Regions from separate parts of the Homo sapiens genome. Here region 1 is linked to region 2. A link means that fine-mapping ties the variant in region 2 to the plasma level of a protein whose gene starts in the linked region. Region 2 holds a variant in brackets. A gene starts in the other region. All regions are shown on their forward strands.

Region 1 (8,271 bases), not on the chromosome of region 2:
AAATACTTTTTGTTTTTTTTTCCTCACCCCTTAATCTTTCCTCTGAAAACAGACTGATTTATCTCACTGATAAATTCAGGAGGGAAACTGGGCAAGTATATATCAGCACCTCCTACTGCCCTTTACCTCTCTGGGCAAGTTGCTCCCCAAAGGCTCAGTCTTGCTCTCCTCCTCCAGGCCCTGGCTCTCACAGGAACAGCTGCTCAGGTGGGGAACTTAGGGTTTTATCAGCATTGCCTGAAATAAGTGAGTGTATTAGTCTTCTTGGGCTGTGCTAACACAAGGCAATCAGCTGGGTGGCTTAAACAACAGGAAGTTATTCTCTCACAGCTCTAGAGGCTAGAAGTTCAAAGTCTCCATCTGGAAGACTCAGTTTCTAGTGAAGGTTCTCTTCCTGGTTTATACAGACAACTGCCTTCTCACTATGAGCTCATATGGCCTTTCCATGGTGGGTGCACACACACACACACACACAGAGACAGAGAGCGACAGGGAGAGACAGAGAGACAGAGAAGGAAAGTGGAAGGGCACTCCAGTGTCTCTTCTTATAAGGACACTAAGCCTATTGGATCAGGGTCTTACCGTTTAGACATGAGATTGACATTACTTCTTAGAGGCCCCATTTCCAAATATAATCACACTGAGAGTTAGGGATTCAACATGTGATTTTTTTTTTCTTTGGGAGGGTACACAAACTTTCAGTCCATAACAATGAGAAGGCCACTCCATTTAGGGTCCAGTATGAGCAAGATCACTTGGATTACACACTTAAAGCAAATTATCTAGTGGCACTATCAGAAGTCAAGATTGACCATTAGATCCATCTATCTCATGTTATTTTCAACTTGTTTGCTTCTGAATTCAAGAGGGCAAAAAGGATGATACTTACTGGGTTTTATAATATTATCCAATATAGCTAGGTTATGTTGCAGTTATAAATAAACTTTAGAACTTGGAGGCTTAACACAATGAAGTTTATTTCTCATGCAGTTAAACTGCATGTAGATCAGGCTGCTCTTCTCCATCTCATAGTCTTGCCATTTAGAAATTTGACTGCCAAGTTGGTACCACAGGGTAAGATGATCAGATGTGATATTTTCAGTGGTCAGGACTGGAGCTGGCTAATGCTTCCAACACCACACATTCCATTGCCCAGAACTCAGTCCATGACCTTAACCCAACTATTAGGAAATAGGACAGTTGCATCTTTCCTGTAGGAACATGGAAAAAAATGTGAATAAACACATAATGTGGTATCTACTATTGTTTTCTAAAACCACAAACCAAGTATTTGCCATTAACAGCACAAGATGAGCAAAGATAACACCTAGTGCTTATGAATGATTTGGGTAGGATTTGAACTGGGTATTGCTCTTAAAGATATTATAGTTCATAGAAATTGCCACATATCTGTGGCCATGATAGGAAGAGCTCATTGAGAATGACTTCTGGCCTCACTATTAACGTTGACAAACCTAAGAAATAGTGTATATATCAAAGTATCATGTTGTACACAGTAAATACATAGAATAAATATAAATTTAAAACAGAAACAATGTTACAAATGGGATTTTCCTTTTTAAGGCACGGTCTTGCTCTGTTACCCAGGCTGGAGTACAGTGACATGAACATGGCTCACTACAGCCCTGACTTTCAGGGCTCAAAAGATCTTCCTGCCTCTGCCTCCCATTTAGCTGGGACTACAGGCATGTGCCACCACATTTGGCCAACTTTTTAATTTTTTTATCGAGATGAGGTCTAACTTTGTTGCCCAGGCTGGTCTCAAACTCCTGGGCTCAAGTGATCTTCCCACCTTGGTCTCCCAAAGTGCTGGGATTACAGGCATGAGTCATTGTGCCTAGCACAAATTCATGCCCAGATTTTAAGTGACTGCTCCAATGCATTCAGTGAATAATTAATATGATTTAAGAAACACTATAATAATAAATGTATTTCCTGGATCTCAAAAAAACTGTGTTCATGTATTTACACATATTAACCAGCCAGGGTCACTGATAAGTCACTGAATACTTCATATAAACTACTTAAATCAAACATTGACAAATGCTGCCCTTTTTATACAATGTGTTTTGGTCAGATCACAAAACAACTTAAATTTGGATTTTTGTGGTCTCCCCATGTATGAGTCCTCTTGAAAAGCTGCATGTTCTGACTATCACAATCGTATACCATTCCACACTGTACAGAATTTTCAGTATTTAGTTGAGATGCATGCTGTTCTTCCAGGACTTCAAATTATGAACTTCCCAGGGGGTTAGTCAGTCAAAATGCTGCTCTAGAGAATATAGTTCTAAGTAGATTTGTATCTGGGATTCTATACATTGAAATTAAAATCACAATGCATTTTAATTTTTTGTTTAAACATCTGCAGTTTAAAACTCTTTGATAGAAGAGATTACATTGTTAACCTCTGTGTGTTTATATGCCTAGTAAGACACTGGTATCAACCATGTACTATGTAATTTTTTAGTGAATGACTATACAGATTAAATGCAGTAGAAGGGCTTCTTTATATTTGTTATGGTCCTATGCATTCTGAATGGCTGCAATTTAATCTCTAAGGATAATGTAGAGTGGACTGTAGTTTATATAATTGTGCAGGGAAATCTTGGAAGATGTAAAAAGCAACGTCTCCAATTTATAAAAGAATCAGTGAGAATGAGGAAATAAGAAAGATGGGTGAAAAGAGGTGAAATTGGAAAGAGAAAACTTTGAGGACATTCAAAAGGGGGAAAGAAAGAATGGAGTGATGAGAAGAGGGGACACTATGGAGAGTGGAGGCAAAGTTAAGTGGAGAAACTGGAAGAACTGTGATCTATTAAAACAAGCAGGAACTGAAAAAATGACATGGTTTCTCCTTTTTATCTTACAAATGACATGCAAAATCCAGAGGGACAAAATGACCTTTCTTTCAATGCCATACACCACTTTGTCTAAGGCAGTTGAGGAAGGGAAGTAGATATAATGGAGCTTAGTGGCAGAGCAGCTGGAATCCTGAGAGAAGAGAATAACTTTAGTTCAGAGCAGGTGGGGAAATGAGAGATTGAGTAGGAGGACCAAGGTTGAGGGAAGCAGATCTTCTTAGTTGCTGTCAGCGGCTGATGGGGAAGATTGTTGGTAGAAGGAAGTCAGAATATAGGTACAGAGGGATAAGTTTGCTAAGAACAGAGATCAGCAAACAGCTTTTCTGAGAGAAAGAAACATCTGCAAATGACATGCTGTTTCTGCAGTTTCTGCTGCTAGCTCTTCTTCTCCCAGGTGGTGACAATGCAGACGGTAAGAACATCGCTGTCAGCTGCAAGGTTACATGTATCTGGGTAGAGTGTGCTGGGCTTTCCCGAGATGGATCAATAGAGATGCCAGAATGCTTGCCATCTGAGCATACCTGTCTCCAGGTCCAGTTTACTCTTTTGGAGGATGGTGGCAGAGCATGGGCTCTGTGTAAGGAAAATGTTATAGCTAAAGTAGTCATTAATGTTTCTCTGTGGTAACTGGTTCAATTTCCATTTCCTCTCCATTTTCCGTTAAAACAATCAGGGCCCAGGAAAATGATGTGGTTTCTCCTTTTTATGTTACAAATGACACGCAAGGTCCAGAGGGATGAAGCAACCTTTCAATGCCACGCACCACTTTGTCTAAGGCAGTTGAGGAAGGGAAGTAGATAAGATGGAGCTTAGTGGGAGAGCAGCTAAAATCCTAAGGGAAGAGAGTAACTTTAGTTCAGAGCAGATGGGGAAATGAGAGATTGAGTAGGAGGCCTAAGGTTAAGGGAAGCAGATTGTCTTAGTTGCTGTCAGTGGCTGATGGGGAAGATTGTCTGTTGGTAGAAGGAAGTCAGAATATAGATGTAGAGGGATAAGTTTGCTAAGAACAGAGATCAGCAAATGGCTTTTCTGAGAGAAGGAAACAACTGCAAATGACATGCTGTTTCTGTAGTTTCCGCTGCTAGTTCTTCTCCTCCCCGGTGGTGACAATGCAGATAGTATGAACATCTCTGTCAGCTGCAAGGTTACATGTATCTGGGTTGAGCATGATGGGCTTTCCCAAGATGGATCAATGAAGAAGCCAGAATGGTTGCCATTTGAGCATACCTCTCTCCAGGTCCAGTTTACTCTTTTAGAGGATGGTGGCAGAGCATGGGGCTCTGTGTAAGGAAAATGGTATAGCTAAAGTAGTCATTAATGTTTCTCTGTGGTAACTGGTTCACCTTCCATTTTCTCTCCATTTTCCTTGCCTCTCTTTTTTTTTTTTTCCTTACACTACTTGCCCTTCTTCCACCAAAAGCATCCCAGGAACACGTCTCCTTCCATGTCATCCAGATCTTCTCATTTGTCAACCAATCCTGGGCACGAGGTCAGGGCTCAGGATGGCTGGACGAGTTGCAGACTCATGGCTGGGACAGTGAATCAGGCACAATAATTTTCCTGCATAACTGGTCCAAGGGCAACTTCAGCAATGAAGAGTTGTCAGACCTAGAGTTGTTATTTCGTTTCTACCTCTTTGGATTAACTCGGGAGATTCAAGACCATGCAAGTCAAGATTACTCGAAATGTAAGTTCAATCATCTAAATTATGGGAGTTCTTTAGAATGTTCTATTTCAGGGAAATATTCTCTACTAATTTTTGGGCCATTTCCCATTATCCCATCCCACCATAAAATTCTGCATAGATGAACCTTTTAAGGGATATTCCTGATGTTGACTCCCTCAAATTTCCTAGGCTCTTGCTATTTTTGGAATTTTTTTTCTTGTGCTTTGTTATCTTCCACCTGTGGTCTCCCTCTGTATCCTACAATCCAGAGATACACAGCTGTCCCACTCTGTGCTTGACTCCCTTAAAATAAAATCTATTCCCCCATTCAATTTCTTCAAAGATCTATGTCCACAGTTCAATGACCATTATGACCAATTTCATGCGTCATGGAATGCTATCCTCCTACCTCCCTCACAAAGGCTCCCCCTTCACCCTCTATCCTATATTATGTGGCTCACCTATCATTTTTCCACATCTTCCTTGGCCACTTTTTCTTGTTAATTCAAGGCATTTATCTCTTATTGTCCCCTTCCCTATCCCCAGCAATTTTTCTCTCTTGTTTCTGATCAAATATGTCTTTGGCTCACTCTCACATCCATGTAAAACTTTCTTGCTTCACTTCCTGATACAGCCCTAGGTTTTTATACTGTTGTTTTCACTTTTTTGTTTGAACTCTTTTTCTCATTCCTCCCTTCCTCCAGATCCCTTTGAAGTACAGGTGAAAGCGGGCTGTGAGCTGCATTCTGGAAAGAGCCCAGAAGGCTTCTTTCAGGTAGCTTTCAACGGATTAGATTTACTGAGTTTCCAGAATACAACATGGGTGCCATCTCCAGGCTGTGGAAGTTTGGCCCAAAGTGTCTGTCATCTACTCAATCATCAGTATGAAGGCGTCACAGAAACAGTGTATAATCTCATAAGAAGCACTTGCCCCCGATTTCTCTTGGGTCTCCTGGATGCAGGGAAGATGTATGTACACAGGCAAGGTCAGTAGTTTCAGCCCCTTCCTCTAAGATTTTTCTATTCAAGTACTGCCCCTTCTGTTCCCACCCTTCAAACTCAGGACAAGAAAGAGGACAAGAAGCAGGGGGGTTGCTGGGTAATAGTTTCTTAGAGGCAGGAAAAAGATAACTGTGCATATTCATGTGGATGTGTGTATGTGGATGTAAGTTGTGTGTAAGTTTCTTCATCAGAACACTTTTTCTGCTCTCTGCAGTGAGGCCAGAAGCCTGGCTGTCCAGTCGCCCCAGCCTTGGGTCTGGCCAGCTGTTGCTGGTTTGTCATGCCTCCGGCTTCTACCCAAAGCCTGTTTGGGTGACATGGATGCGGAATGAACAGGAGCAACTGGGCACTAAACATGGTGATATTCTTCCTAATGCTGATGGGACATGGTATCTTCAGGTGATCCTGGAGGTGGCATCTGAGGAGCCTGCTGGCCTGTCTTGTCGAGTGAGACACAGCAGTCTAGGAGGCCAGGACATCATCCTCTACTGGGGTAAGACTGGAGGTTGGAAGTGTAGGTAGGTGGTTCTTGAGCCTAGAGGTTAGGGGAGAGGAAATTTTGAGGATAGCAGACCTAGGTGAGGGATTGTAGGAAGAAATGTATAGGGTAATTTAAAGAATAGTGGAGTAAGACCTAAGGGATACATGGATACTAGAGATTTAAGGGGAAATGAGGAATCCTTCCTTGAGTAAGTTTTGGAATAGAGTGACTGAAATAGGATAACTGATGCAACTCATCCAATGCATATGTTAAGTAAGGAAATCAATAGATGGAATAGAATCAGCAGTGAGTTTAAAATGGCATCCATGTATCTTTCCAATATGTGCAGGACACCACTTTTCCATGAATTGGATTGCCTTGGTAGTGATAGTGCCCTTGGTGATTCTAATAGTCCTTGTGTTATGGTTTAAGAAGCACTGGTGAGTTTTTTGTATTTCCTCCTCTCCTCCCAGTTTCTTATTTCACATTCCATTTTTCACTCTCTTAGCTTTTCTCTATTGACTACTCCACCTTATCCTCAGTTACCACCTCCAACTTATTCAGGGTTTCTCCCATTCCTGTTCCTTCACAGCTCATATCAGGACATCCTGTGAGACTCTTCCCCCTGACTCCCCCATTGTGTTAAGAACCCAGCAACCCAGGAGCCTAGTACAATATAGTGATGCCATCCCGTCGACTCTCCATTTAAATTGTTTCTCTTTCTGCATAATAAACATTTGTTAATAAAAACCAAATTCTAATTTGGAATGTTTTTCTTGGAATCTCCACTTTTTATATAGCACTCAACCTTCAAAGCCCATTTCTGATGTCATTTCCTCCAACGATCTTCCTTGACCCATACTGAACCCAGAGAGCCCCTCAACTGTTATGTGCATGCAACACTTCCTACCCTGTGTTGCAGCTACTTGAGTCTTTCATTTCACATTTTTAAGCTTTTAGGAGGCAAGGATCATGATAAATGTGCCTTTCCTGCATATGATAGGCTCAGTGAAACACAAAACAAAACATCATATCTAAGTTGGATTAACTGTCATGTTGACAATTTTTCTCATTATATTCCTTCCCAATGTTGTTGTAGCATTGGAAATATTCATGCTTCTCTTTTTGTTTAAATGCTTCATACCTAGCAGATAAATTCCACTCTCCTTTAGCTCCCTCATTTTCTCCTTAAACATTTAAGGAAAAGTGCAGCCTTGTGCCTTGATACACTTATTTTCTAAACACAGAGAATTACAAATGCAAATAGACAGAGAGTGTGCAAGTTACATGTGATGATCAGTGGTGCAGATATGTCACAGAATACTTAAGAAAAGGAACAAGAGATTTGGTCCTCAGGGTTGGAGTGGGATCAAGGCAACCGTTGTGCTGTATATGGAAGACAAATTTCCTAAAGGACTGTGTTATCTGAGATAGCCTTGGCTAAACTTTAGTCCCTTTAGGTTTCATTCACTAATTCAACTAATATTTTTTGGGTACTGAGTTGAGACAGGCACATACAGCTTCTAAACTGGTGGTGGATAAAACAAATGAGATTGTGTCCACTCTCCTGAAGTTGCAATGTTTGCTTCCTCAATCTGTCCATGTTTCTTTTCTATTGTTTTCATGTTTTTATTTATTTCAAAAAATTTTAAATAGATTTTATTGATGTATAATTTATAGTAAAATTTGAATCTTTAAGTGTACAGTTCTATTTATTTTGATAATTATATAAGCCCATGTAAACAAAATCACAATCAAGATATTAAATGTCATAACCCCTCATACCTGTTTGTAGTCAAGCACACCAACAACCTGGCATTCTTGCAACTACTGATATACTTTATGTCACTTAAGCTTAAACTTGTATTTTCTATGATTTTATTAAGATGGAAATAAACATATCTACTTGGTATTGCCTTTTATTTTTCTTCAGTTTAGCATATGGTTGTAAGTAATCCATGCTGCTCAGTGTATTAGTAACCATTCCTTTTCATTGCTGAATAGAATTCCATGTATGAATATAACTTTTTTTGGAGGAGGAGGTGGCTTCCCAGATCTGGCAGGGCCTTTGTCTCCTTGTGCCCACTCACCCAGCTTGGGTCCTGCTTCCATTGCTCATTTCCTTGGCACCAGGAGGCCCTAGGTGACTCTCCTGCACCCTTAGTCACCCTGTGACCTGCAGATACAGAGAGATCAATAGAGAGGATTCTAGGACACCCAGGAAACTGGGAAATAAA
Region 2 (8,330 bases):
GCCCGCCACCACCCCCGGCTAATTTTTTGTATTTTTAGTGGAGATGGGGTTTCACTGTGTTAGCCGGGATGGTCTCGATCTCCTGACCTCGTGATCTGCCCGCCTTGGCCTCCCAAAGTGCTGGGATTACAGGCGTGAGCCACCGTGCCCGGCCCAGAATGGTCGTATTATTAAATGACCACATGATCGGGCTGCTTTCCGAACTTCACCTTCCCACGGTTCTAGGAAGCAGCCACCATTATCATGGTGGCCTCCAGGCTTGCGTGTCTAGCTCCTGTCCTTCCTGCCCTCACCTCCCACACCCCTTGGCTTCCTAGCACCTGCAGTTCTGCCTCGACCCCTCCTCAGTGCCCCGGCTTTTGCAAATGCTCTCCCCTCTGCCTGGAAAACTCTCCTCCCCATGACAACTCCCATGCCTCCTATGGCACTCGGCTTTCCTGTCCTTCATGAAAGCATCCAGGGTCCCCGAGTGCCAAGCTGCAGCAGGTCCCTTGTCTCGGGGCTTCCACCCTCGAGGCGTGAGCTCCCCCTGTCACCATCCTGCCTAGGGATTATGGGTGTAATTCCTACTTCCTGCTCACCTCCTGCCAGACTGTGGGCCTGATGGGGCAGGGACCGAGCCCTCCAGTCTGTCTAGGGCCTGGCCGCACCAGGCAGTGATTGAATGAACAGATCCATAAACACACCGAGAGACACGGATGTACCCAGGCCCATGCACAGACACACAAATGCAGTCACCAGCCATGCACGGAAACTCACATTGACAGACGCTCAACCTCACAAACGTGCAAACCAAAGTTACCTAGAGACGCACGCAGTGACCAAGACACACACACGCCCACTGTCTTCTGTCTATGCTCTGGGCTCACTGCCTCTCATCCAGCCCTGCCCCTCGGGCAGGATCCCCTGCGGGTGTGGGCCTCCTGCACTGCAGCCCTGGCCTTAGCTCCAGGGGGCCAATCCCATGTTATGGGCCCCCAGCAGGATTCTCTGGGCCCCAGCCGTGGTCTTGCCACGTGACTACTTACAAGTGGCTTTTATGCTAAATGCACATAATAGCACATTGGCATAATATCATTGCCAATACTCACAGGTACCATGGTTCACACAGGGAGCATGGTGTGAAGCTCCTCTTACAGGGCTTGTTAGAGGAAAGTTCCAGCTCAGGCAAAGGCTTGGGGTGGAGCGGACAAAGCTACAGTTTGGCCTTTTCCTCAGCAGCGTCCTGCTTCTAGAATCACCACTAAAGTTAACCCAGGCGAGGGGTTCTCTCCCAGCCTCCAGGAGGCTCCAGCTGGAGGCAAACCGCCGGTCTGGGAGAGGTACAGTGGCCAGGGAGAGGAAGGGTTTCAGGGTGGTGTGGGTGGTAGGGGCTGAAGGCAGGGGCAGCAGGGCAGGGCCTGGAGGCCAGCAGCACAGAGGGTCCCCACCTGGCTTCATTTTGGGGGAGGGGGCTGGGCAGGGTATCTGGCGGAGGAAGCAAGAAGGGGTGGCCTCAGAGACTGGCTTGCGGAGATGGGGCTGCATTCCCTGTGGAAGGGAGTGGGCCTTCACGGCTTCAAGGCCGTTTGTCACCTAAAGCAGCTACGGGCATCTTCTCTCTTCCCTCTTTCTTTTTAGAGACAGTGTCTCACTCTGTCTCCCAGGCTGGAGTGCTGGGGTGCGATCATAGCTCACCGCAGCTGCAAACTGCCGGGCTCAAGTGATCCTCCCACCTCAGCCTCCTGAGTAGCTGAGACTACAGGTGGGCACCACCATGCCCAGCCAATTTCTGTATTTTTTGTAGAGATGGCTGTGTTGCCCAGGCTAGTCTCAAAGTCCTGGCCTTAAGCAATTCTCCTGCCTCAGCCTCTTAAAGCACTGGTATTAGAAGAGTGAGCCATGGCGCCCTGCCTCTCTTAAAGATGGCTTTAACCATCACTTACAGCACAGCTGCATCCCTCCTTGGCGGGGTGGGGGAGATTCTTTCCCACCTCTCTGAGTGTCCCCATCTGGGTCCTTGCTCAGTGAGAGCCAGACTTTCTGCTATAACCAGGCCCTGAATGAGAGAGAACCAGAGTCATGTGCTGTGCACCAAATGCAGTGGGAAGACACGAGGGATGCCTCGGTGACCTTCTTTTCAAACAGGAGTCTTTCCCTGGTAACCTGCCTCTGACCTTCCATCAGCCAGATGTTATCTTCCCAAGGCAACAGTGTTCCAGAATTCTTTCTGAGGTGGCCCTGGCAGCTTCTGGGTCCTTCTATTCTGATTTCCAGTTTTCTTTTTCCATTTATTTATTTATTTATTTATTTATTTATTTATTTATTAATTATAGGGTCTTGCTTTGTTGCCCAGGCTGGAGTGCAGTGGCACGAACACAGCTCACTGCAGCCTCAAACTCCTGGGCTCCAGTGATCCTCCCGCCCCAGCCTCCTGTGTAGCTGGGACTACGGGCATGCACCACCATGCCTGGCTAACTTTTTATAGAGATGGGGTCTCACTATGTTGCCCAAGCTGGTCTCAAACTAGCAGACTCAGTGATTCTCCTGCCTCAGCTTTCTGAGTAGCTGGGACCACAGGTGAGCACCATTATGCCTGGCTAATTTTTTATAGAGATAGGGTCTCACTATGTTGCCCAAGCTGGCCTCAGACTAGTGGGATCAAGTGATCCTCCCACCTCAGCCTCCTGAGTAGCTGGAATTACAGGCATGTGTCACCATACTGGGCTAGTATTTGTATTTTTTGTAGAGACAGGGTCTTGCTATGTTGCCCACGTTGTGCTTGAACTCCTGGGCTCAAGCGATCCTCCCACCTTGGCCTCCCAAAGTGTTGGGATTACAGGCGTGAGCCACTGCACCCGGCTCCAGGTGCAGTGGAGCCGGCCCAGGCCTCACCCTTTCTCCAGACCTCACATTCCCAGGCTCGTTGAAGGGAGCAGGGTGCTTCAGGCAAACTTGGGGCTCGGGTCTCCAGGCACTTGGGGTTTTCTCCTCCCCCGGCGCTGGCAGCTGGCCTGGCTTCTCTCGGCTGGAGATGCTGAAGACTCCTCGGCTGGTCTGAGAAGCATGAGAACAGAGCTGGGAAAACTGGCCGTTTTTGTGGTTTGGGGGTTTGATGCAAGTTTCACAACTGATCTCCCAAGAACACGGTCGGTCCGGTCAGATGCGCTCCCTGGCCAGGGGCCTGCTTCCCTGCTGACGCCGGTGCTGACCGCCCGAGGCGGGGGCTCCACTCGCCCTCCCCACCCCATTCCCCGCTTTCCTTCTTTAGGGAACAGCCTGGAGGTGTGGAGAAGATGGCTTTGTTTTGGGGGCTTTCGTGGTTTCCACCTCATCCTTCAGCCTGGGGAGAGCTGACGGCCTGGTACCCCTCACTCTCATCCTGGAGTTTTTCTCAGACACCTCTGGGCAGCTGTTCTTAAAGCTTTCATTTTGAGGGGACAGTGGGCCAAGGACGTCTTTTGTAGTGATAATCTTGGGCCGGGGCTGATGAGTGGGAAGTCTTAGAAAGACCTGCTCTAGGGCTCCGGGAGAGATGAGGGCCGCCAGGGAGGCACACACCTCCGTAGCCAGCCCACTCCAGGAACCCAGAGCTGCCTCCCCGGCAGACAGCTGGGCTGGGGAGGGGGTCCTCAAGACCTGGCCCTGCCTCCAAGTAGCCTGGCCCCCGGACCTATCCTTCCACCCTGGGAAGTCCCGAGCTGCCTCAGGCCAGCTGGGGCAGAACTGAAATTGGTGACATGTGCCTCTCTGGTCCCTTGACTCCCGCCCCCGCTCCCTCACCCCCAGAGTCTTCCTGAAGGAGCCTCCAGACCCAGCGAGGAGCCACAGGCAATGCCCACCCTGAGTGGGAGCTGCTGTCCTGCCTTCCACGTGGCCCCAGCCTAGCTCGCCCTTGCGTGAACTGGGAGCTGCCCCACTTCCGGAGGTTGGTGCGTGGTTCTAGATCCTGTCGTCCCTCCGCTTGGGGGCACAACGGGCTGGGACCCATGCACGTTTCTCAGACACTCCATCTCTCATCTCACAGAGCAGGAGGGGTCTGCAAAGGGCAGGCTGGTCAGGACACAGTGTGAGGCAGGGGGCCCCGGGGAACAGAGTCCAGGCTCCACCTCTGCTGAGCAGGCAGTCCTGAGTGTTGTTACCAAGTTTGGGTGAGGGCCTGGGACCCTGTCACATCACAGCTGGGGAAACGGCCAGGGCTGGGACTCAGTGGCGAACAGCAGAACCCAACAGGCGGCCGCACAGACTCACGACCAGGGGGCTCGGTCAGAGGTGGGGACAGAGGGTGACCTGGACTTGCTGAGTCAAGGAGTCAGGCCAGCGCTGCGGAGAATCCCACAGGGCTACGCTTGGGGGCCAAGGAGAGGCACGTGGCCAGGCACATCTGGGTGGACAGAGGGGTTCCAGCCACTCACAGAGCCCTCTCAGTCAGAGCCAGATAAGCCTGGGCAACTGAGCCACTCAGGCAGGGAGCGGGCGGGCATCTGAGGTCCCCAGGGAGTCTGCCCTCCTGGTGGGCACAGCTGGGCCCAGATGAGGCCCACAGCATTGGGACTGGGCAGAGACACCCAGACA[T/C]GGCTGCTGCTGTGGGCCCCAGGAAGGCCCCATATTTGGGGTGCATCTGCCGGGTGCCTGCGTCCCCTTCCCGTTCCCTATCCCTGTGCCCCCCTCCCAGCTTCCTGTTTCTGTTTTGGGGCTGCAGGAACTTCCTCTTCTCATCACGGACCAAAATGGCTTCTTGGTCTCAGCTGAAGGCCTGGCGGGGGGCTGGTCACCCCAGCCTGAAGGACAGCCACAGAGCGAGGGGGGCTCCGAGCCTCTGGGGGCGGTGACATCTGCCAAAGGGTGAACTGTGGCCCTTTCCCAAGAGACTCCCACAGCTCCTCCGATGGAGCCTGTCATGTGAGCACCTGCCCAGGCCACGGAGGGCCTGGGTCCTGCTGGAGTGACCCTAAACGGCCCCCTTGTGCCCTTCCCGCCTCACGCAAGGGACCCAAAATATGGATTGCCTGGTCTCCCCTTCCTCCTGCTCCCTCCCAGGCACATGGTGCAGACACTTACGGGCACCGTGTTGGCCTATGTGTGTGGATGAGCAAATACACACACACGGGGTAGGGGGGTGCCCTGAGCCTGTGACCCCCTGAGCCGGTGACCCCTGCCTGCCAGGGAGCAGAGCTGCAGATTCCTGGATGCCGAGGGAATAGAAGGCCTGGCCCGGCCTGGGCAGTACATGGTGAGGGTGTGTGTGTGTGTGTGTGTGTGTGTGTGTGTGTCTGGGTGAGTGTGCCTCTACGCATGTCTAGGGGGCACCATCCTTTTCCTCCCACTCCCCCTGCCCCCTTCCCCTGAGCAGAGCTGCTCCCTTAAATAAAGCTGAGCTGTGCCCTTTGGAGCCCCTGGGCCCTCGAGGGAGTGCAGGGTGACAGAGTGGGCTCCCCTTACTCCTGGGACTCCTCACTCAGGGGGAGCCTGTGGTGGGTGTTGGGGGAGGGCGTAGGAGGTGGGCACACGCCAGGGAGGGCACACAGGATGGTGGCCCCTGATCCCCTGGAGTTGTGATGCCCACAGGAGGGGTGCTTTACCAGGCTTGGGCACCCCAGGAACATCCTGGCCTTGGGATGGGGTGTGGGGGTAAATGGGGGACGGTGCTGAGAGGCCGAGCCCCGGTCTACCTCCCTGCCCATCCAGGGGTCCCGGGATGGAGTTGAGGAGCCAGATGCATCCTCTGGGGGGTTGTGGCCTGGGTCAAGGTCAGGACAGCGCCAGGGAAACTCCTGCTACCAGCTGCCCCTAGCCCCAGGCTGCCGCTGCTGTCCAGAATTCACCCAGCGTTCACTCCATGCCAGGCACCAACACGGACAGCTCCTTTAATGCCCGATGTCCATCCTTGTCACGGACAGGTGAGTACCCTGTGGCCAAATGGGCAGGAGGTTGTGGAGCCTGGCACCCACACTGCAGAGATGCCGAACTCTGGCCAGCGGCCTCCCTCCCCAAGGCCCGCTCCATGGGGAGACAGTGAGGGGAACCCACAAAGCCTGGGGTCACTGGGTCCCCCTAGCTGGCACCTAGCTTGTGCCCCCATTAGCACAGAGAGGAGGCGGTAAAACAAACACTCCCGACTGTTTACCCCAACATCTCGGGGCCATAATTAAGCTTCCTTCAATCGGGCCCTTATCAGCCCGGTATCTTGAGCAGCCTCTGACGGGGAAACATCCCGGAGCATCTAACGAAGGAAAGTTGGACGCCTTTTGAGACTTTTTAAATCCTGAAGAATAGGCCTCTGTTGCCAGCTACCCGCCTGTGGCAGCCTGCCTCATCTCTGGACTCTGCCGGCTGCCCCAGGGGCAGGGGCAGGACCAGGCGGCCCCAGCCCTGGCACCCCAGCCCTGCTGGGATGAGCCCCCAGGCCCTGCCCACCATCTGGCTCCTCCAATTGCAGTGTCCCTGCTGGCCAGCGGTGGGGTCCTGAAGGCACCCCCTCTTCTGCCCTCAATGCCCCACCTCACCCTGCCAGATGCCAATATCTGCCTTCGGCAGGCACCCTTGCCAGCCTGGGCCAAACCCAGGTGGTGGGTGGGGCTGGTGATGAAGGGTGAGCTCTCATTGCCCACAGCCCCCCATCACCTGGTTCTACAAGTTCCCCACCAACCAGGTCCAGACCTGCCACTCTCAGCCTCTGAGCTTTGCTGAAGCTGTTCTCTCCACTTGCAAGGCTTGTCCCTGCTCCTTCCTCCTGGATAATTTCTGCTTATATTTTAAGACTTAGCTTCCAGATGTGGCGGTTCATGCCTGTAATCCCAGAATTTTGGGAGGCTGCATTGGGAGGATTGCTGGAGCCCAGGAGTTCAAGACTGGCCTGGGCAACATAGTGAGACCCTATCTCTACAAAAAATTAAAAAATAAGCTGGGTATGGTGGTGCATGCCTGTAGTCCTAGCTACTAGGGAGGTGGAGGTGGGAGGACTGTTTGAGCCCAGGGGTTCAAGGCTGCAGTGAGCCACTGCACTCCAGCCTGGCCAACAGAGAGAGACTCTGTCTTTTAAAAATTAAAAGAAGACTTAGTTTGAGTATCACTCCCTCTGGGAGCCATCTGTGCATTCCAGGTCAGGCTCCTGTCTCTCCTCTGTGCCCCTCCAACTTCATGGTCTCCATGCCCCAACTCCGTGTGTGTCCCTTGGGGGGCAGACCTTGGGTATCAGGCCAGCCCTCTACCAGGCCCAGAGCAGCCTCTACAAGTGCTCAGCTTCTGTGTATTGGAGTTAAGAAAGCATGACCTGGGGATACCCATGCCGCCCAGCAGCCGACGGTAAACCTGGAGTCCTCACCGCCATGCTCTGAGGGAGGTTCTGTTCACTCCACATCATAAACCGGAAACAGCGCTGGAGCAGAGGCGACAGCTGGGTGCATGGTGGCTGGAGAGCCTAGGATACCAGGCAACAAACCTTTTCTGCAAAGGGCCAGATGGTAAACATTTTAGGCTTTGTGGACCGGACAGTCACTGCTATAGCTTTTCAACTGCTTTTGCAGGGCAAAATCAGCCATAAATGAATGGGTGTGGCTGTGTTCCAATAAAACTTTATTTATAGACACTGAAACGTGAATTTCATATCATTTTCATGTGTCATGAAATCTTCTTTAGATTGTTTTCCAATCTGGTGGCAGGCTGTATTTGGCCTGGGGACTGTAATGGGCTGATTCCTGGTGCAGGGTGAGAATTAAATATGTTTTCCCACCTGGTTCAGGGCCAGCCTGGTCAGTCCTCCCTCAGGGCCCAGCAGCTGCTCGGAGGAGGAAGCAGAGTCACTCCATCTCCAGCCCAAGTGGAGGACACAAATGAGTGAACAAACTCACCTACTATCTAACCAACTAACCAGTTAACTAAGCCCTTATCTCCTGGATTCAGAGTTACCCCCGCCTCCTCTCTGTTTTTCTGTTTTTTTTTTTGTTTGTTTGTTTGTTTGTTTTTGAAGACGGGGTCTAACTGTGTTGCTGAGGCTGGAGTGCAGTGGCACGATCATGGCTTACTACACCCTGAGCTCATGTGATCCTCCTGCCTCGGCCTCCCAGAAAGGTGGGATTACAGGCATGAGACACTGTGCCCAGTCCTGTGGGCTTCTTTAGACCCGACTGACCCCTTGTTGTCTGACCTATCTCTTTGACCCCTGGCCAGGTATCTTTTCACCCCCTCAACCTGCCCAAGGTGGTGGGAACCTCAAGAGAAGCCCATTGAGCGCCTGAAAGCTGCCGACGACCACTCACTACTGATGTGGTGTGGCCTGGCCTACAGCCTGGTACAGGCTAGCAGAGGAGATGTGTACAGCCTCAGGGCTGTGTGTGATGGGGAAGGGGGCT

Direction of the effects. Positions count from the first base shown, and alleles are read on the strand shown. Strength reflects both the effect of a copy and how common the allele is.
For the plasma level of the protein whose gene starts at base 3,095 in region 1, C is the low allele of the variant in region 2 and T is the other (weak association).

The links. PIP is the chance, under the fine-mapping model, that this variant and not a neighbour inherited with it causes the effect. The UK Biobank Pharma Proteomics Project read protein levels with antibody pairs (Olink). The fine-mapping took linkage between variants from a reference panel, not from the people measured, so its PIPs are less certain.
Region 1: it holds the start of CD1C, and the variant in region 2 is fine-mapped to the plasma level of the CD1C protein (UK Biobank, PIP above 0.99).

The regions. Positions count from the first base shown.
Region 1 is chr1:158,286,829-158,295,099 of GRCh38, forward strand. CD1C (CD1c molecule) reads left to right here and starts at 3,095. Exons shown (of 6, transcript NM_001765.3): 1 at 3,095-3,297; 2 at 4,306-4,572; 3 at 5,256-5,537; 4 at 5,768-6,046; 5 at 6,384-6,474; 6 at 6,627-7,946. The coding sequence starts at 3,237. The coding sequence ends at 6,648. It also overlaps a transcript of CD1B not described here. RefSeq lists an enhancer at 16-145.
Region 2 is chr19:33,264,113-33,272,442 of GRCh38, forward strand. No RefSeq gene overlaps it. Among named protein-coding and RNA genes, the nearest start is that of CEBPA, 34 kb to the right of the region's middle. The variant T/C (reference allele first, on the strand shown) is at 4,555.